3 separate regions of the Homo sapiens genome follow, and regions 2 and 3 are each linked to region 1. Evidence: fine-mapped expression QTL. A gene starts in region 1. Each other region holds a variant in brackets. All regions are shown on one strand. Distances are between the middles of the regions. Region 1 holds the start of FAM30A (family with sequence similarity 30 member A). Region 2 overlaps FAM30A (family with sequence similarity 30 member A). Region 3 has its middle 55 kb from the start of MIR5195.

Region 1 (7,129 bases):
GCAGGGATGGTCTCCTGGTCCTCAGAGCATGGCCCAGCTGCTGCAGGGATGGTCTCCTGGAGGCCCCCCAGTGCTCTATTGTCAGGGCTCCCTCCACCCCCCGCACCAAGAGAGAGCCAGACCCCAGCAAGGCTTCCAGTGGCTTCAGGTCACACCCCTAGGCTGACCCCAGCCCCATTAACACCTGCCTGAGAAAGCTCCACGCACCAGAACTGACCGTCTGCTCCAACTCTTGACCTCCCGTTCTCAGGGCGTCTGCTGAAAAGGCTGCAACTGCACATCCTTCCTCCGTCCGTTCCCGATGTCCGTGTGTCTCCTGTGGCCAGGAAGGTCTTTCTCGGGACCTGAGAGCCGCTCCCTGAAGTGTCCCCATTGGGAAGGATGGGGCCTGTGTCTCCAGGCTCTGGGAGGACAGAATCCTGACCTCAACAGTGGCCGGCACGGACACAACTGGCCCCATCCCGGGGACGCTGACCAGCGCTGGGCAACTTTTCCCTTCCCCGACGACTGAGCCCCGAGCACCCTCCCTGCTCCCCTACCACCTCCCTTTACAAGGCTGTGGCCTCTGCACAGATGATAATGGAGCTTGGCTCATTCCCCTAGAGTCGGTAGGGAGTTAAGGACAAAACTCAGTTTCCTCCACCTGAACTCAAGTCTGCCTATGTTTACCTAATCACACCTGGTGGACAGTTTGGACAAACTTGCACACTCAGAGACACAGACACTTCTAGAAATCATTATCTCCCTGCCCCGGGGACCCCACTCCAGCAGAAGTCTGCTAGGCACTGGCCTGGGCCCTCCTGCTGTCCTAGGAGGCTGCTGACCTCCTGCCTGGCTCCTGTCCCCAGGTCCAGAGTCAGAGCAGACTCCAGGGACGCTGCAGGCTAGGAAGCCGCCCCCTCCAGGCGAGGGTCTAGTGCAGGTGCCCAGGACAAGAAAGATTGTGAATGCAGGAATGACTGGGCCACACCCCTCCCGTGCACGCCCCCTCCTGCCCTGCACCCCACAGCCCAGCCCCCCGTGCTGGATGCCCCCCCACAGCAGAGGTGCTGTTCTGTGATCCCCTGGGAAAGACGCCCTCAACCTCCACCCTGTCCCACGGCCCAAGGAAGACAAGACACAGGCCCTCTCCTCACAGTCTCCCCACCTGGCTCCTGCTGGGACCCTCAAGGTGTGAACAGGGAGGATGGTTGTCTGGGTGGCCCCTAGGAGCCCAGATCTTCACTCCACAGACCCCAACCCAAGCACCCCCTTCTGCAGGGCCCAGCTCATCCCCCTCCTCCTCCCTCTGCTCTCCTCTCGTCGCCTCTACGGGAAATCCGGGACTCAGCAGTAACCCTCAGGAAGCAGGGCCCAGGCGCCGTTTAATAGGAGGCTTCCTCACAATGAAACTTTTAGAAAGCCTTGACTACAATGATGACCTTGGTGTGGCTGTGAACACTGTCAGCTCCCACAGCTGCTGCAGCAAAAAATGTCCATAGACAGGGTGGGGGCCCGGGGTCGTCTGCTGTCCTGCTCAGCCCACAGCACGCATGGAGGATCTGAGGTGCCACACCTGACGCCCAGGCCAGAACATGCCTCCCTCCAGGGTGACCTGCCATGTCCTGCATTGCTGGAGGGACAGGGGCAGCCTATGAGGATCTGGGGCCAGGAGATGAATCCTATTAACCCAGAGGAAAACTAACAGGACCCAAGCACCCTCCCCGTTGAAGCTGACCTGCCCAGAGGGGCCTGGGCCCACCCCACACACCGGGGCGGAATGTGTACAGGCCCCGGTCTCTGTGGGTGTTCCGCTAACTGGGGCTCCCAGTGCTCACCCCACAACTAAAGCGAGCCCCAGCCTCCAGAGCCCCCGAAGGAGATGCCGCCCACAAGCCCAGCCCCCATCCAGGAGGCCCCAGAGCTCAGGGCGCCGGGGCAGATTCTGAACAGCCCCGAGTCACGGTGGGTACAACTGGAACGACCACCGTGAGAAAAACTGTGTCCAAAACTCTCTCCTGGCCCCTGCTGGAGGCCGCGCCAGAGAGGGGAGCAGCCGCCCCGAACCTAGGTCCTGCTCAGCTCACACGACCCCCAGCAGCCAGAGCACAGTGGAGTCCCCACTGAACCCCACTGAATGGTGAGGACGGGGACCAGGGCTCCAGGGGGTCATGGAAGGGGCTGGACCCCATCCTACTGCTATGGTCCCAGTGCTCCTGGCCAGAACTGACCCTACCACCGACAAGAGTCCCTCAGGGAAACGGGGGTCACTGGCACCTCCCAGCATCAACCCCAGGCAGCACAGGCATAAACCCCACATCCAGAGCCGACTCCAGGAGCAGAGACACCCCAGTACCCTGGGGGACACCGACCCTGATGACTCCCCACTGGAATCCACCCCAGAGTCCACCAGGACCAAAGACCCCGCCCCGGTCTCTGTCCCTCACTCAGGACCTGCTGCGGGGCGGGCCATGAGACCAGACTCGGGCTTAGGGAACACCACTGTGGCCCCAACCTCGACCAGGCCACAGGCCCTTCCTTCCTGCCCTGCGGCAGCACAGACTTTGGGGTCTGTGCAGAGAGGAATCACAGAGGCCCCAGGCTGAGGTGGTGGGGGTGGAAGACCCCCAGGAGGTGGCCCACTTCCCTTCCTCCCAGCTGGAACCCACCATGACCTTCTTAAGATAGGGGTGTCATCCGAGGCAGGTCCTCCATGGAGCTCCCTTCAGGCTCCTCCCTGGTCCTCACTAGGCCTCAGTCCCGGCTGTGGGAATGCAGCCACCACAGGCACACCAGGCAGCCCAGACCCAGCCAGCCTGCAGTGCCCAAGCCCACATTCTGGAGCAGAGCAGGCTGTGTCTGGGAGAGTCTGGGCTCCCCACCGCCCCCCGCACACCCCACCCACCCCTGTCCAGGCCCTATGCAGGAGGGTCAGAGCCCCCCATGGGGTATGGACTTAGGGTCTCACTCACGCGGCTCCCCTCCTGGGTGAAGGGGTCTCATGCCCAGATCCCCACAGCAGAGCTGGTCAAAGGTGGAGGCAGTGGCCCCAGGGCCACCCTGACCTGGACCCTCAGGCTCCTCTAGCCCTGGCTGCCCTGCTGTCCCTGGGAGGCCTGGACTCCACCAGACCACAGGTCCAGGGCACCGCCCATAGGTGCTGCCCACACTCAGTTCACAGGAAGAAGATAAGCTCCAGACCCCCAAGACTGGGACCTGCCTTCCTGCCACCGCTTGTAGCTCCAGACCTCCGTGCCTCCCCCGACCACTTACACACGGGCCAGGGAGCTGTTCCACAAAGATCAACCCCAAACCGGGACCGCCTGGCACTCGGGCCGCTGCCACTTCCCTCTCCATTTGCTCCCAGCACCTCTGTGCTCCCTCCCTCCTCCCTCCTTCAGGGGAACAGCCTGTGCAGCCCCTCCCTGCACCCCACACCCTGGGGAGGCCCAACCCTGCCTCCAGCCCTTTCTCCCCCGCTGCTCTTCCTGCCCATCCAGACAACCCTGGGGTCCCATCCCTGCAGCCTACACCCTGGTCTCCACCCAGACCCCTGTCTCTCCCTCCAGACACCCCTCCCAGGCCAACCCTGCACATGCAGGCCCTCCCCTTTTCTGCTGCCAGAGCCTCAGTTTCTACCCTCTGTGCCTACCCCCTGCCTCCTCCTGCCCACAACTCGAGCTCTTCCTCTCCTGGGGCCCCTGAGCCATGGCACTGACCGTGCACTCCCACCCCCACACTGCCCATGCCCTCACCTTCCTCCTGGACACTCTGACCCTGCTCCCCTCTTGGACCCAGCCCTGGTATTTCCAGGACAAAGGCTCACCCAAGTCTTCCCCATGCAGGCCCTTGCCCTCACTGCCCGGTTACACGGCAGCCTCCTGTGCACAGAAGCAGGGAGCTCAGCCCTTCCACAGGCAGAAGGCACTGAAAGAAATCGGCCTCCAGCACCCTGATGCACGTCCGCCTGTGTCTCTCACTGCCCGCACCTGCAGGGAGGCTCGGCACTCCCTGTAAAGACGAGGGATCCAGGCAGCAACATCATGGGAGAATGCAGGGCTCCCAGACAGCCCAGCCCTCTCGCAGGCCTCTCCTGGGAAGAGACCTGCAGCCACCACTGAACAGCCACGGAGCCCGCTGGATAGTAACTGAGTCAGTGACCGACCTGGAGGGCAGGGGAGCAGTGAACCGGAGCCCAGACCATAGGGACAGAGACCAGCCGCTGACATCCCGAGCCCCTCACTGGCGGCCCCAGAACACCGCGTGGAAACAGAACAGACCCACATTCCCACCTGGAACAGGGCAGACACTGCTGAGCCCCCAGCACCAGCCCTGAGAAACACCAGGCAACGGCATCAGAGGGGGCTCCTGAGAAAGAAAGGAGGGGAGGTCTCCTTCACCAGCAAGTACTTCCCTTGACCAAAAACAGGGTCCACGCAACTCCCCCAGGACAAAGGAGGAGCCCCCTGTACAGCACTGGGCTCAGAGTCCTCTCCAACACACCCTGAGTTTCAGACAAAAACCCCCTGGAAATCATAGTATCAGCAGGAGAACTAGCCAGAGACAGCAAGAGGGGACTCAGTGACTCCCGCGGGGACAGGAGGATTTTGTGGGGGCTCGTGTCACTGTGAGGATATTGTAGTAGTACCAGCTGCTATGCCCACAGTGACACAGCCCCATTCCCAAAGCCCTGCTGTAAACGCTTCCACTTCTGGAGCTGAGGGGCTGGGGGGAGCGTCTGGGAAGTAGGGCCTAGGGGTGGCCATCAATGCCCAAAACGCACCAGACTCCCCCCCAGACATCACCCCACTGGCCAGTGAGCAGAGTAAACAGAAAATGAGAAGCAGCTGGGAAGCTTGCACAGGCCCCAAGGAAAGAGCTTTGGCGGGTGTGCAAGAGGGGATGCGGGCAGAGCCTGAGCAGGGCCTTTTGCTGTTTCTGCTTTCCTGTGCAGATAGTTCCATAAACTGGTGTTCAAGATCGATGGCTGGGAGTGAGCCCAGGAGGACAGTGTGGGAAGGGCACAGGGAAGGAGAAGCAGCCGCTATCCTACACTGTCATCTTTCAAGAGTTTGCCCTGTGCCCACAATGCTGCATCATGGGATGCTTAACAGCTGATGTAGACACAGCTAAAGAGAGAATCAGTGAAATGGATTTGCAGCACAGATCTGAATAAATTCTCCAGAATGTGGAGCCACACAGAAGCAAGCACAAGGAAAGTGCCTGATGCAAGGGCAAAGTACAGTGTGTACCTTCAGGCTGGGCACAGACACTCTGAAAAGCCTTGGCAGGAACTCCCTGCAACAAAGCAGAGCCCTGCAGGCAATGCCAGCTCCAGAGCCCTCCCTGAGAGCCTCATGGGCAAAGATGTGCAGAACATATGTTTGTCATAGCCCCAAACTGAGAATGAAGCAAACAGCCATCTGAAGGAAAACAGGCAAATAAACGATGGCAGGTTCATGAAATGCAAACCCAGACAGCCAGAAGGACAACAGTGAGGGTTACAGGTGACTCTGTGGTTGAGTTCATGACAATGCTGAGTAATTGGAGTAACAAAGGAAAGTCCAAAAAATACTTTCAATGTGATTTCTTCTAAATAAAATTTACAGCCGGCAAAATGAACTATCTTCTTAAGGGATAAACTTTCCACTAGGAAAACTATAAGGAAAATCAAGAAAAGGATGATCACATAAACACAGTGGTCGTTACTTCTACTGGGGAAGGAAGAGGGTATGAACTGAGACACACAGGGTTGGCAAGTCTCCTAACAAGAAGAGAACAAATACATTACAGTACCTTGAAAACAGCAGTTAAAATTCTAAATTGCAAGAAGAGGAAAATGCACACAGCTGTGTTTAGAAAATTCTCAGTCCAGCACTGTTCATAATAGCAAAGACATTAACCCAGGTTGGATAAATAAACGATGACACAGGCAATTGCACAATGATACAGACATACATTCAGTATATGAGACATTGATGATGTATCCCCAAAGAAATGACTTTAAAGAGAAAAGGCCTGATATGTGGTGGCACTCACCTCCCTGGGCATCCCCGGACAGGCTGCAGGCACACTGTGTGGCAGGGCAGGCTGGTACCTGCTGGCAGCTCCTGGGGCCTGATGTGGAGCAGGCACAGAGCCGTATCCCCCCGAGGACATATACCCCCAAGGACGGCACAGTTGGTACATTCCGGAGACAAGCAACTCAGCCACACTCCCAGGCCAGAGCCCGAGAGGGACGCCCATGCACAGGGAGGCAGAGCCCAGCTCCTCCACAGCCAGCAGCACCTGTGCAGGGGCCGCCATCTGGCAGGCACAGAGCATGGGCTGGGAGGAGGGGCAGGGACACCAGGCAGGGTTGGCACCAACTGAAAATTACAGAAGTCTCATACATCTACCTCAGCCTTGCCTGACCTGGGCCTCACCTGACCTGGACCTCACCTGGCCTGGACCTCACCTGGCCTAGACCTCACCTCTGGGCTTCACCTGAGCTCGGCCTCACCTGACTTGGACCTTGCCTGTCCTGAGCTCACATGATCTGGGCCTCACCTGACCTGGGTTTCACCTGACCTGGGCTTCACCTGACCTGGGCCTCATCTGACCTGGGCCTCACTGGCCTGGACCTCACCTGGCCTGGGCTTCACCTGGCCTCAGGCCTCATCTGCACCTGCTCCAGGTCTTGCTGGAACCTCAGTAGCACTGAGGCTGCAGGGGCTCATCCAGGGTTGCAGAATGACTCTAGAACCTCCCACATCTCAGCTTTCTGGGTGGAGGCACCTGGTGGCCCAGGGAATATAAAAAGCCTGAATGATGCCTGCGTGATTTGGGGGCAATTTATAAACCCAAAAGGACATGGCCATGCAGCGGGTAGGGACAATACAGACAGATATCAGCCTGAAATGGAGCCTCAGGGCACAGGTGGGCACGGACACTGTCCACCTAAGCCAGGGGCAGACCCGAGTGTCCCCGCAGTAGACCTGAGAGCGCTGGGCCCACAGCCTCCCCTCGGTGCCCTGCTACCTCCTCAGGTCAGCCCTGGACATCCCGGGTTTCCCCAGGCCTGGCGGTAGGTTTGGGGTGAGGTCTGTGTCACTGTGGTATTACGATTTTTGGAGTGGTTATTATACCCACAGTGTCACAGAGTCCATCA
Region 2 (7,129 bases), 8.5 kb before region 1:
AGCCCACACCTTGAGGTACAGCAGGAGCCATGCGCTCTTGCTCTTGCTCACTCACACTCCTGCACACAGCCACTGACACACGCCCTCGTGCACGTTGCAGATTAACTCCACTGGCCTTGCACTTGCAACGCTGGAGGCTGAGAGGTATCCCCAGGTTCTTTTCTCGTGAGAGGGGCAGGCTGACTTTCACTCTCCTCCATGTGCTAGAGGCAGCTCCACCAACACTGGCTGCCCTGAGTGGATGCACCTGGCTCTGGAATTCCTGTCATTTGCTTTGGATCCAGGAGCCCCTGCCTCATGTAGCTACTTAACAGAAAGGAGGAATCCACCCAGGACATGCCCAGACGGGAGCCTCACAGGATGGACAGTGGTGTCTGGGGTCACGGGCAGCCCTGACCCAGCAGCGCCAGCACCAGCACACCCAGTGGGGAAGGCGGGGAGGCCCAAACGCCACCCACAGTTTGTTACTCCACTGGGTGGGACCCGGCACCCCTGCCTTCCTGACACCCTGGAGTCCCTGCCTCTTCCTAGAGCCCCCAAGCCCATCTGCCTCAGAGCATCCAGAGACAGACCTGGGGAGCCATTTCCTCAGGCCCTGGACAAGGAAACAGGGAATTCCAGGTTATGGGTGCCTGGGGCAGGTCTCAGGCAGGTGCTGGGAACCAGAGAGAGGGGTCACCGCGAGGCCTCAGGCCTGGCACCAGCACTTTGAGCCTCAGTTTACCAGCCCACGAGGTGCTGAGTCTGGACTGGATGACCTTCCCACCCCCAGTGACCTCTGCCCTTTCCCGAGCATGTCAGCTCTGCTCCAGCATCCTGGTGTGAGCGCAATGCCACTTTTTTTCTCAACAAATACGAAAGGAGGAAGGTGCCCCCAGGGCCCTGTGCCCTGAGGATGCCTGTGTGGAGGGGTCCATTTCATCACTGGTGTCACTCACAGGAAGGGACGAAGCCACCTGCCTTGACGGAGCTTACTCCACCTCCGCCGAAGGCCGGGGAGGTCCCTCACAGAGAACCTGAGGCCCAGCAGGCTGCAGAGGTGCTGGCATGGAATGACTGCTCAGACGCCCGGGGCCGGCAGAGAGGACGGATGTGGGGGAGGTGCACACTGAGGAGCCTCTCCTTGGAGGTGGAGACACGTGCACCACATGGACCAGGACACAGTCCACGAAGCCTCGCATCCCCCTGAGCTGCAGCTCAAGGGCCTCTCTCTGAGCCCAGAGTCCCACCCCTGGGAGGCAGCTGCCCCAGCTCTGAGGGAGGAGGGCATCCACCAGGCCCTCCATCTCCTGGGGGCACCAGCCCAGCCCAGAGGCTCTGCAGGACTCTGCACCTCCAATTCATGGCCAGGACTTTCTGGATGTATCTTAAGGACTGAGGACTCCACATCAGGGACCACACAAGACCGGGGTCCCGGACACGGGGGTTGGGGGTGAGCATGTCACCGGGATGGGCTGTGGCGTCACTCTGGTACTTCATCCGGACAGCCAGGGACCAAAGCCACGCCCTCAGCCCCACCCCACCCCTGCCTCACATGGCAACGCAGGGTCTGCAGATGCAGGAGAGTGAGAAGCATGGTAGCCAGGCAGACTAGAGGACCCGAGCTGGGGTTGAGCACCTCCCTGTCTACCCAGGGCATGGCCTGTGAGACTGCAGGTGGCCTAGTGTGTGCTGCAGGCTCAAGGTCCTGCCCCAGGGAGCATGACATTCAGGCCCAGAAATTGCATCGTGCTGCACACAGTCCAAGGGGATAACCCTGTGAAGTTCAGGTCACCAGCAGGCTTGGGGTCAAGACCGAGCTGCAGAGGACAGGTTTCTGGAAGGCACAGCATCATGGGTGGAGGGACTTGGAGCAAGGTCCTTAGCCCCGGGACCAGTGAATGTGTGCCCTTATAGGGAAAGGGGGTCTTTGCAGAAGCAAGTTAGCTGAAAATCATGAAGTGGAGAGGCTCCCCTGGATTAAAGGGGTGAGCCCTAATGTAATCACAAGTGTCCTTCTAGGAGGTTGGCAGAGGGAGACTGACATAGACAGAAGCCAGGTGAGGTGGGAAGCGGAGGCAGAGGCCGAGAGAGCAGACGCTACGCCCTGGCCCTGAAGACGGAGGAGGAGCCGAGAGCTCAGGGATGGAGAGACTGGAGGAGGCAGGGAAGTTCTCCCCGCAAGCCTGGAGGGAGCATGGCCTCCAGCACCCCCAGACCTTGGCCCTGCAGGATTCATCTGGACCTGTGGTATAAATGGTGTTTAAGCCACTGGGCTGTGCAAATTGTCATAGCAGCCATGGCGCATTCCTAGAGGGAGCCCTGGTGGGGACCCAGCAGGCAGCGACGGGGCCCTCACAAGCCTGTGAGCCACTCAGAGCCGCGAGAGTGGCTAGGCTTGGTGAGGTGCAGGCCACGCGCACCTCCACTAAGGCAGCCTTAGGGCCCACACTTCCTCTCTCTCTCTCTCTCTCTCTCTCTCTATCTCTCTCCCTCCCTCCTTCCCTCCCTCCCGCTCTCTTGGTTGGACAGCTCTCCATCATCCCCCTGGACACGACCACCTCCCAAGGCCGAGCTGGGGCGCTTTGCTCGAGGTGAGCACTGACATCCTGGGGGTGTGAGGGGCACCTGCCCAGCGGCCCCGTGTGCAGGATGGGCGGTGGGCCCTAGCTGGCACTGGGCATATGGCCCGGCTGGTGCCTGCAGGCTGCAGCTTTTCTGGGGTGGCTGGGATCAGTGAAGGCCTCCAGAGTCTGGGCCTGGGATCCCTGCAGTGCTGGCTGAGGACAGGCGGGGCTGGGCAGTGAGGGCACTGGGTCACTATCACCACCCACGGTTTATTACTTCACTAGGTGGGACCTGGCACCCCTGCCTTCCTGACACCCTGGAATCCCTGCCTCCTCCTACAGCCCCCAAGCCCATCTCCCTCAGAGCCTCCAGAGACAGACCTGGGGAGGCATTTCTTCTGCCCCCAGCAGAAGCCCGGGAGGCCGGGAAGGCACAGTGGGTCTAAAGGAGAGGATCCCAGGACTGCCTGAGGGGTGACTCCGACGAGGCAAGCATAGAGCCCACTGAGAAGCGGGGTGGGAGCCCCACCAGGGATGGGCTAGTTCCTCATGAAGGACCAGGACCCAGGAAGGACAAGGGGGCCTGCTGGGGCAGGGTCTGCTATGCCGGAGTCCCTGTGAGCCTGGCCCAGACCTGCCTCTCTCTTTCCTCATTGGTCCCCACAGGTCCGTGGTGGTTGCCGTATCGGGAGGCCCCATGGTGGCAGGGGTGGGACACCTGGTATACGTCGCCAGGTGTGTCCAATAGGCTCATGCTCACACCTTCTCCTGGCACCTGGGCAAAGCCTGAGCACCCAGGCACTGAAGTGAGGGCAAGGCCTCGGGGCCCCACAGGATGGCCGAGGAGACAGCTGCAGGGCGCCTGGGACCCCTGGGCTCAGGAGGTAGAAGGATACAGCCTGAAAACCCACACCACAAGCTCACCGGCCAGTGCAGGCCCACAGAGCTCGAGGAGGCAGCCCTGAGCCTCCCAGGGAGAGATGCTCTGTGCACGCCGGCACAGGCCCTGGGTTACAAACCCTAGGCACAGCCCAGGAGAGGCCCAGGCCCCAGTCCAGCAAGGGGTTGCAGGAAGCAAGAGGTCCCCGGCCACAGCATGAGATAAGCCCATCAAGCCAGGGCCAGGTGGGCAATGGGAGGCAGGCAGGGCTTGGGGGTGAGTCCCTGCTGCAGCGCCGTCCACTGTCGACCGGAGGAGTTTCTTCCCTGTGCGGAGTCCACGGGCCTCCTGTGAGTGTGTGCATGGGCACAAGTGTGTGTGTGGCTCTGCTGTGTGTCTGTACACACGTATGTTTTGGGTTTTTTTGTGTCTCAGACCACAGAGTCTGCCCCTCCCACCAAAGCCCAGGCAGAAGGATGAACCCACGCCCCTGGGGCCCAGGCCTCAGCAGCCTCTGCAGGATCATTGTTCCCAGTTGTCACTTGCCTTTGCCACAGCCCTATTTCTCCACAATTCCTTAAAGTCCTCAACATGCATTTAAGGCACAAAGGTGAAACTGCCCAGAAACATCTGACTCCGCCGTGGAACCCAGGAGCAAGCTGGGTTAGCTAAGGAGCGGGGCCGTTGGCAGAGGCTGGGGATCCAGGCTGAACTTTGGAGGAGGCATGTGCCAGCATGGGCTCCTGACTATGTCCTCCTGGGACAAACCCAAACCCACTCTTTGAATATGGGAGGGACTTTGCTGGCCCCGGCCCTGACCGCAGCACTTGGAAACTGAGGAGTGGTCGCCTCCTCCGTGTCACAGCTGCCCGTTCACCATCATAGAAGCAACTCTGTCACCTCCATGGGCCCCTCTGTGGCTGCTGCCTGGGTCCAAGCTGAGCCCAGCTGCCCAGGCCCAGAAGGAAAGCCCAGGCCAGGTGCCCAGCACAGAGGCAGTCACATACCCCGGGGAGAGCCACAGCAAGCAGCCAATGTTGCCCAGGAGAGGAGTAGCTGACAAGG[T/C]AGAACGTGAGCTGCCATCGGCTCGAGAGGCTTTGCTGGTCCTCCTGGGGCTCTGGACATGACCAGGAGGAGCGAGGGAAGAAGTCGCATGGTGGTCCCATCCTGGGTGGGGCCTGATGGCAGCTGGCCACCCGTCCCAGAGTGGCAGCCAGATGCCAGCGCCATTCCCACAGTCACATCATTGGTCACAGAATGCAGGACATAGAGTGTCTTCTTTCCATCACAGTGCTGTCCAGACCCATAGCCTAGGGTAGACCTGGAAGATTCAATGTCCACACCCGGGGCTGGAGCGTAGCCATGAGCCACGCCCCCTGCCCGTGCATGGAAAGCCAGCCCAAGCTCTGCTCCATCCCTAGCCAAAGTCAGTGTCCTTTCCCCTTCTCCCAAGTGAGCTCTAGCCACCTGCCTACCCTGCCATCTGAGGATGACAGCCTTCATTCCATTGGAACCTGGCTCTGCCACCAGCAGGCTTGCAGTCCTGGGCAGACTCCGTCACCTCTCTATGCCTCAGCCTTTCCATCTGCACAGGAGGAAGATGATGATGGTGGTGATGATGATGGCGATGGTTTCCTTTTGCATCTGAGGCAAGGACTAATTGAGATGATACACATCAGGCACTGGGTATGGTGCTGGTCCTTCCTGAGCACTCAATCTATGTGAGCTGTCCTTGTGAAATGGGTGTCACCACATTTCCCCACGCAGAACATCCTTTGTCTGCCATACTTGAAACGTCTGCCCCAATACTAACAGCTCCTCATGGAAGATGTGCACACCCACCCACCCTCATACTCCCAAAGGTGCCCGTGCTTTATCAAGCCAAAGTCCAGCCAGGAACTTTACAGCAGCATCCCTTTCCCTCTCCAAGCACCAAGGAGCAAGGCAAAGCACTACATCTTCCATCTGGAGGCAATGCCACCCTCTTCTCCCATTTTCACTGCCATCCCTAAGAGGCAGTGCTTCCCCAAAAGGTTCCATAGCAGCCTGCCTACAGCAACTCTGTTCACACGAGTTTCAGCATCCTTGCAGTGGCTCCCCTGCCATGCTGTGGCTCTTCATTCACCCTCTTCTCCTGCTCCCCGTGACAGGCATAGATTCTGAGTGATCTGGATACATTGCTTTGTTTAATAACATTACAGCTTCTGTGCTGAAAAAGATACAGCAGATAGAGAAGGCAATTGTTGAACACAAAATAGTGACAGCAGAGATGACGGCAAGTTGGCATTTTTCTTTTCTAGCAATAAAACTTAAAGCTGACTCAAGGAGAAATGGAAATCATAATTGGAACAGTAATCCTCAAGAAAGCATTAAGATTATTAAATAATTGCCCTCACAGATGACTTCAGGCCAAGATGGCTTTATGGGTGAAGTTTAGACTTTCACAAAACTAATCAGTTCCCATAAGAACTGCTCCAGGATTTGGAGGAACATGGGAAAGTCTATTAAAGGGATCACAATTCACAGTCCCCAGAGTAAAACATGGGCTAACTTGCATTTTGGCAAAGAGCCAAATGTTATAAATGACATCCTAGAAGGCCAAATTCTGTCCATCTCGTTGAACAAGGACTTACACCAGGAATTTAGAACTATTTATAGCTCATCCCACCACTCAGGCCAATGATGACCCATGATCATCTCACCAGAAATGGAAAGACTCAGATGATTAATAGAGTCTCAATTTCTCTGAGACATCTAAGAGCCCAGCCCAAGCCCAGACCCAGGAGGGCACCCAGGCCTGGACAGAGAACACTGATATCACACCAGCCCTCCAGAGGGAAGCAGAGACTCCTTCAAGCTCTGGAAACACAGGCCCAGACAGCTGCCTAAAGTTGGGCAGGCTTCACTGCAAACCCAAATCATGAAGCTAGGTAACACCTTTACAGATTCTTTACATTTAAAAATCATCAAAACAAGAGTAAATAATAAACTCAAATAATATTAATCTAATATGTAAAGGTCTTGTACCATTATTATGCAAACAACATACATAAGCTAATAAGAAAAAGAACAAATCCCTTAAGAAATCGGCAAAAAGGATATAACACAATTTCTAAAAGAAAACAAATGGCTAGCACACATAAGGAAAACACTTTGTGAACAGACATTCTTCAGAACATTATTTATAATTATAAAATAGTTGAAAGCAAGATAGTGCCTGAAGAAATTATGGTGCATACATTAGTGGGACTATTCTGCAAACATTCCCAATTATACTTGTCACATATCTGTGATAACGTGACAGCCAGCATTCATGGGGTGACCTCATTTGGTAAAAGGGTGCAAAGCTCAACACGCATTGTGAGATGACTGTGGTGTAAAATTAGTGGGATTATTCCGCAAACATTCCCAATTATACTTACCGCATATCTGTGATAACATGACAGCATTCATGGGGTGACCTCATTTGGTAAAAGGGTGCAAAGCTCAACACGCATTGTGAGATGACTGGTGTAAATACAAAGACCAAACTGTGAAAAGGAGTCCATCAATTAATCGATGCTTACCTTCAGTTTTGGGCTAATTTTTAAAGTATGCTATAAGCATATGCTCCTGTTATAACAGAATGGAGGGATTATGAGAGATGATGCAGGTGTGTCCTGGGCCTCCCCTGGCCCACTGGGCCCTAGAGATGCCTTCCCAG
Region 3 (7,129 bases), 880 kb before region 1:
ATAAACATATTTTTTACTTACTGATTTTATTTCCTTTGAATACGCAGCCAGAAGTGGGATCACCAGATCACGTAATAGTTTTACTTTCAATTTATAAAATAACTTTTACTACCACTCCACTGAATAATTCTCTTTTCACCAGCTAACTGTCAGCATTTTGTTATCTTTTGTGTCTGTGATAATAGTCATGGTAATGAACGTGAGGTGATATCTCATTGTGGTTTTGATTTGGATTCCCCTGATGATTAGCAATGTGGAACACCTTTCCATGTCCTGCTGGCCATGCATATGTCTTCCCTTGAATACAATGTCTATGTACAGTTTTGCCCTCTTAAAAATCAGGGGTTTTTTTTGCTATTGTATGGGTTCTTTACACATTTAGATAGATCCCTTTGTCAGATATATAGCTTCAAGTAATTTATTTGTCTATGATTTTGGTGTCGAATCCAAATAAATCATTTTCCAGATCAACTCTGGAAAGCTTCTTTTTTCCCTGTTTTCTTCTATGAGTTTACAATTTTAGATATCATATTATATCCAAGCCTTGAGTACATTTTTAGGTGATTTTTGTATATGAGATGAGATGAGGTCTCATTTTTTTCTGCATATGGATGCTCAGTTTTTACACCATTTGTTAAAAAGGCAATCTTTTCCTTATTGTGTGTCCTTGGAACAAAAAATCTGGGAGATACACAAAAGAGGAAAATCTTAGACCAATATTCCTGATGATAGACCTAAAAATCTTCAAGAAAATACTAGGAAATTGAATATAGCAGCACATTAAAAAGTTATTACATTATGATCCAGTAGATTTTACTCCTTTCATGCAAGGCTAGTTCAACATACACAAATCAATAAAGGTGCTCCACCACATAAGCAGAATCAAAAGCAAAAACTATATAATTATCTCAATAGATCCAGAGAAACTTTCAATAAGATTCAACATTCTTCATGATAAAAACCTTCAACAGACTAGACATCAAAGAAACTTAGCTTAAAATGATAAGAGCCATGTATGACAAACCCACAACTGACACCATACTGAATCAACAAAAGCTCAAATCATTCCCCTTCATAACTGGAACAAAACAAGAATACCCACTCTCACCACTCCTATTCAACATAGTAGTGGATGTTCTAGCCAGAGAAATCAAACAAGAGAAAGAAATAAAAGGCATCCCCACAAGTAAATAAGAATTCAAACTATCTATTTTTGCTGTTGATAGGATCCTATGCATAGAAAATTCTATAGACTCTGCCAAAAGAATCCTAGAATTGATAAACAACTTTAGTAATGTTTCAGGATACAGAATAAATATACGAAAATCAGTAGCTTTTTTATACACCAACGACATCCAGGCATAGAGAAAAATAAATGACACGATCCCACTTACAACATCTACAAAAAAAGAAATACCTAGGAATACAGCTAACCAAGGAGGTGAAAGATCTCTACAAGAAGAACTACAACCTCTCCAGCACATGTTGTTTCCTGACTTTTTAATGATCGCCATTCTAGCTGGTGTGAGATGGTATCTCATTGTGGTTTTGATTTGCATTTCTCTGATGGCGAGTGATGATGAGCAGTTTTTCATGTGTCTGTTGACTGCATAAATGTCTTCTTTCGAGAAGTGTCTGTTCATATCCTTCACCCACTTTTTGATGGGGTTGTTTGTTTTTTTCTTGTAAATTTGTTTGAGTTCATTGTAGATTCTGGACATTAGCCCTTTGTCAGATGAGTAGATTGCAAACATTTTCTCCCATTCGTTAGGTTGCTTGTTCACTCTGTTGGTAGTTTCTTTTGCTGTGCAGAAGCTCTTTAGTTTAATTAGATCCCATTTGTCAATTTTGGCTTGTGTTGCCATTGCTTTTGGTGTTTTAGACATGAAGTCCTTGCCCATGCTTATGTCCTGAATGGTATTGCCTAGATTTTCTTCTAGGGTTTCTATGGTTTTAGGTCTAACATTTAAGTTTTTAATCCATCTTGAATTAATTTTTCTATAAGGTGTAAGGAAGAGATCCAGTTTCAGCTTTCTACATATGGCTAGCCAGTTTTCCCAGCACCATTTATTAAATAGGGAATCCTTTCCCCATTTCTTGTTTTTGTCAGGTTTGTCAAAGATCAGATAGTTGTAGATATGTGGCATTATTTCTGAGGGCTCTGTTCTGTTCCATTGGTCTATATCTCTGGTTTGGTACCAGTACCATGCTGTTTTGGTTACTGTAGCCTTGGAAACAACAGGTAACAACAGGTGCTGGAGAGGATGTGGAGAAATAGGAACACTTTTACACTGTTGGTGGGACTGTAAACTAGTTCAAACATTGTGGAAGTCAGTATGGCAATTTCTCAGGGATCTAGAACTAGAAATACCATTTGACCCAGCCATTCCATTACTGGGTATATACCAAAAGGATTATAAACCATGCTGCTATAAAAACACATGCACACGTATGTTTATTGTGGCACTATTCACAATAGCAAAGACTTGGAACCAACTCAGATGTCCAACAATGATAGACTGGATTAAGAAAATGTGGCACATATACACCATGGAATACTATGCAGCCATAAAAAATGATGAGTTCATGTCCTTTGTAGGGACATGGATGAAGCTGGAAACCATCATTCTCAGCAAACTATCGCAAGGACAAAAAACCAAACACCGCATATTCTCACTCATAGGTGAGAATTGAACAATGAGAACACATGGACACAGGAAGGGGAACATCACACACCGGGGCCTGTTGTGGGGTGGGGGGAGGAGGGAGGGATAGCATTAGGAGATACACGTAATGCTAAATGATGAGTTAATGGGTGCAGCAGACCAACATGGCACATGTATACATATGTAACAAACCTGCACATTGTGCACATGTACCCTAAAACTTAAAGTATAATTAAAAAAAACAATTACAACGAAAATCCTTAATGTCTCTTGAGTAGGTAGAGAACATATATTTTATCTAAGTAACTTGCTCTAAACTGCAAACCAAAATAAGATGATTCAATAAAGTATTTTGTAAACTAGTCTTTAGCAAAAAAAAAAAAA[G/AAG]AACTACAAAACACTGCAGAAAGAAATCAGAAAGTAAACAAATAAATTGAAAAAAAAATTCCATGCTCATGGAATGGGAGAAATAATATTGCAAAAATGGCAATATTATCCTTCAATATTTATCGATTCAATGTTATTATCAAAATACCAGTTTTATTCTTCTAGAAATATAAGAAAAGTATTCTAAAATTTGTATGTAACCAAAAAAGAACAAAAACAGCCAAAGTAATCCTCAGCCAAAAGAACAATGCCAGGGACATCACACTATTTGACTTCAAACTCTACTATAAAGCCACAGTAACAAAAACTGTTTGGTACTTGTACAAGAATAAACACATAGACAAATGAAATAGAATAGAAAACTCAGAAATAAAGCTGCACACCCACAACCATCTGTTTTTTGACAACCCTGAAAAAAATAAACAAGCAATGGGGAAAAGACAACCTAGTCAATAAATGGTGCTGGGATAACTTGCTAGCCATATGCAGAAGATGGGAACTTGACTCGTGACTATCACCATATGAAAAAGAAAATTAACTCAAAATGGATTATAGCTTTAACTAAGACTTCAAACTACAAAAAGCTAGGAAGACAACCTAGGAATACTCTTCTCTGCATTGGCCTTGGCAAAGAATTACTGGCTCTGAGACCAGGCATTTTTTGTAACAGTGATTTATTTTCTGGGGTACATATCATGGAGTGGGATTGCTGATTGAACGATAGATCTATTTTAGTTGCTTGATAAGCCTTTACAATTTTTTTCACATAGGTTGCACTAATTTACATTACCAACAACAGTGTATAAATGCATTTTCTCTGAATTCTCATCCATATCTATAATTTTTTGACTTCATAATAATAGGCACTTTGACTGATGTAAAGTTGTGTCTCACTGTTGTTTTAATATTAATTTATCTAATGATTAATGTTGTTCAGCTTTTTATTTCCATATGCTTTTTGGCCATTTGAATATCTTCTTCACAAAATGTCTGTTGATGTCTTTTGCCCACATTTTAATGGTGTAATTTATTTATTTGTTGTTGTTGCTGAGTTGTCTGTGTTCTTGTTAGATTCTAGATGTTAGTTATTTATTGCACAGTAATGTAATAAATCTAAAAGTCAGGAAACAACAGGTGCTGGAGAGGATGTGGAGAAATAGGAACACTTTTACACTGTTGGTGGGACTGTAAACTAGTTCAACCATTGTGGAAGTCAGTGTGGCGATTCCTCAGGGATCTAGAACTAGAAATATCATTTGACCCAGCAATCCCATTACTGAGTATATACCATCCCATGACTGGGTATATACCCAAAGGATTATAAATCATGCTGCTATAAAGACACATGCACACGTATGTTTATTGTAGCACTATTCACAATAGCAAAGACTTGGAACCAACCCAAGTGTCCAACAATGATAGACTGGATTAAGAAAATGTGGCACATATACACCATGGAATACTATGCAGCCATAAAAGATGATGAGTTCACGTCCTTTGTAGGGACATGGATGAAGCTGGAAACCATCACTCTCAGCAAACTATCGCAAGGACAAAAAACCAAACACCACATGTTCTCACTCATAGGTGGGAATTGAACAATGAGAGCACATGGACACAGGAAGGGGAACATCACACACTGGGGCCTGTTGTGGGGTTGGAGGGGCGGTGGGGAGGGATAGCATTAGGAGAAATACCTAATGTTAAATGATGAGTTAATGGGTGCAGCACACCAACATGGCACACATATACATATGCAACAAACCTGCACATTGTGCACACATACCCTAAAACTTAAAGTGTAATAAAAAAAATAAAATTAAAAAAATCAATTGCAAAAAAACTGTTGAAACTATGAAAATATGAGGTAATTAAACAACACAATTTTGACCAATCATTGGCTCACCAATAAAATTAAGATATTAATTTTTAAAAATACAAAGAAAAATGAAGCCACAACATACCAAACCCTCTGAGATACAGGAAGAGCAGTACTAAGAGCTTATAGTTCTAAATGTCTATGAAAAAATAGAAAGATTATAAACTAGCAATCTATTGATTTACTTCAAGGAACTAGATATTTTAGAACAAACCAACCCCAGAGCTAGAAGAAGAAAATAAATAAAGATCATGGCAGATTTCAAAAATATTGAAACAAAAAAGCAAAATATAAGGAATCAACAAAACAAAATGTGGTTATTTTAAAACATGAACACAATTGATAGAGCACTAACTAGGTCAACAAAAAAAAAAAGACAGAAGATTCAAGTTAGCACAAGCAGAAATGATAAAGGTGGTATTATAACTGACCCAATGGAAATACAAAAGATTATCAAGACATACTGAATATGTCTATGCTCACAAACTAGAAAATCTAGAGGAAATCAATAAATTTCTGGAAATATTCAACTACCCCCCAAAATTGAACCAGGAAGGAAAAGAAATCCTAAATAGACCAATGCGAGTAATAAGACTGAATCAGAAACTGAAAATCTCCCAACCCCAAAAGCCCAGAACCAGATAAATTCAAGGTCTAATTTTACCAGATGTACCATTCTTACTGGAACTATTCCAAAGGATTAAAGAGAAGAGATTCTTTCCCACCTTTGTCTAAAATACTCGTATCACCTAATACCAAAATCAGGCAAGGATACAACTACAACAACAAAAAGCTACAGGGAAATATCCCTAATGAACATAGATACAAAATAGTAAACAGAATACTAGCTAGCTGAAACCAACAGCACAATAAAAGATAATACATCATGACCAATTGGGTTTTATTCCAGGGATGCAAAGCTTGTCTAAAATAAACACATCAATAAATATGATTCAACATATAACATAATTAAAAACAGAAAACATAAGACCATCTCAATGAATGCAAAAAAGTCATTCAATAAAATTCAATATCCCTTCATGAAAAATTCCTCAACAAGCTTAGCATCAAAGAAACCTACCTCAAAACTATAAAAGCCACATACAACAACCAACAAAAAACTCTTAAATAAATCAATAGAACAGGGATCTTCTTAAATTTAGTAAAAACCTATGCAACTGATTTATTCAATATGCTGGACTTGGTAGTGAAGAAATGAATGACTTTAACTAAAAAAAAAAGCCACATATAACAAAACAACATTATATGGAATGAGAAAAAGTTGCAAAAATATTCCTGAAGAACGTGAGCAAGAATGCACACTTTCACCACTCCTACTGGACGTATTACTGAAAGTCCTAGCCAGAATAATCAGAAAGGAAAAAAGAAATGTATGTTTCAAGTTCCAAGCTAAGGAATCCAGGAGTGGCAGACCCAGAGACTTGTTTTTTAATCTATGAATAACATCCAAACCCCTGACCGATCCCTTGGAACACAGGATTTAGGGGTGATTGAGGCTCTTTCTTTTGGGTTAAATGAAAGTTGCTAGGTGGAGGGTGTTAAGTAAAAATTACTACATAAGCTGCATAGTTTTGTCAAATGGTTGTAGTTTTCTTGTCCAGCCTGCTGTTCCTGAACCACCCTATATGAAAGCCCTCAATAAACTATATGTCTTGTTCACTGGTTTGGCCTGTTGTACACGATGCCAGTCCTATTGGAGTCCATATTGGTCTGGCGTGACATCCAGTCAACCTGGTAAAAGGTCCAAAAAAAATCTCATGAGCACCCAGACAATGGAATCTAAAAAGAGGAGACCCCTGCAGAAACCTTGGGCAGGCTGTTAATTTCTACGTGGGGCCCAACAGCCGTTATCCATGATGGATGGGGCCCAGTGCCTGAGTATGGGGATACCGCCACAATGCCAAAAGTTCTGGAAGAACCTCTTCAGTGGGTGCATCTTACAAAGTGAAAGTCAGATGTCCAGGCTGTTGCATTATCAGGTGAGTGGTTCTTCCTGACTGCACTCTGAGAAGCCACTGAGACAGTGCTCACTGTGTATGCTACAGTGTGTCAGTCACAAGAAGAGCTACTCCTAGAAAAACATGCCAGACTAGCTCAGACTAATCAGAGACCTTTCTGTCCTGCCTGTGGAAGCAGAATGGCAAATTGGGGACCGCCGCTTGTGGAGCAGCACATTTGA

Evidence for each region. PIP is the estimated chance that this variant, and not a neighbour inherited with it, causes the effect.
Region 2: its variant is the best candidate, but not a certain one, in a credible set for the expression of FAM30A in whole blood (INTERVAL, PIP 0.62).
Region 3: its variant is the best candidate, but not a certain one, in a credible set for the expression of FAM30A in whole blood (INTERVAL, PIP 0.83).

Annotation. Positions count from the first base shown.
Region 1 is chr14:105,914,337-105,921,465 of GRCh38, reverse strand. FAM30A (family with sequence similarity 30 member A) reads right to left here and starts at 3,487. Exons shown (of 6, transcript NR_026800.2): 1 at 2,649-3,487; 2 at 208-316. It also overlaps IGH, IGHD3-3, IGHD2-2 and IGHD1-1.
Region 2 is chr14:105,922,842-105,929,970 of GRCh38, reverse strand. FAM30A (family with sequence similarity 30 member A) reads right to left here. Exons shown (of 6, transcript NR_026800.2): 5 at 6,849-6,956; 6 at 1-5,635. It also overlaps IGH. Among named protein-coding and RNA genes, the nearest start is that of FAM30A, 8.4 kb to the right of the region's middle. The variant T/C (reference allele first, on the strand shown) is at 4,492.
Region 3 is chr14:106,792,602-106,799,730 of GRCh38, reverse strand. It overlaps IGH. Among named protein-coding and RNA genes, the nearest start is that of MIR5195, 55 kb to the left of the region's middle. The variant G/AAG (reference allele first, on the strand shown) is at 3,051.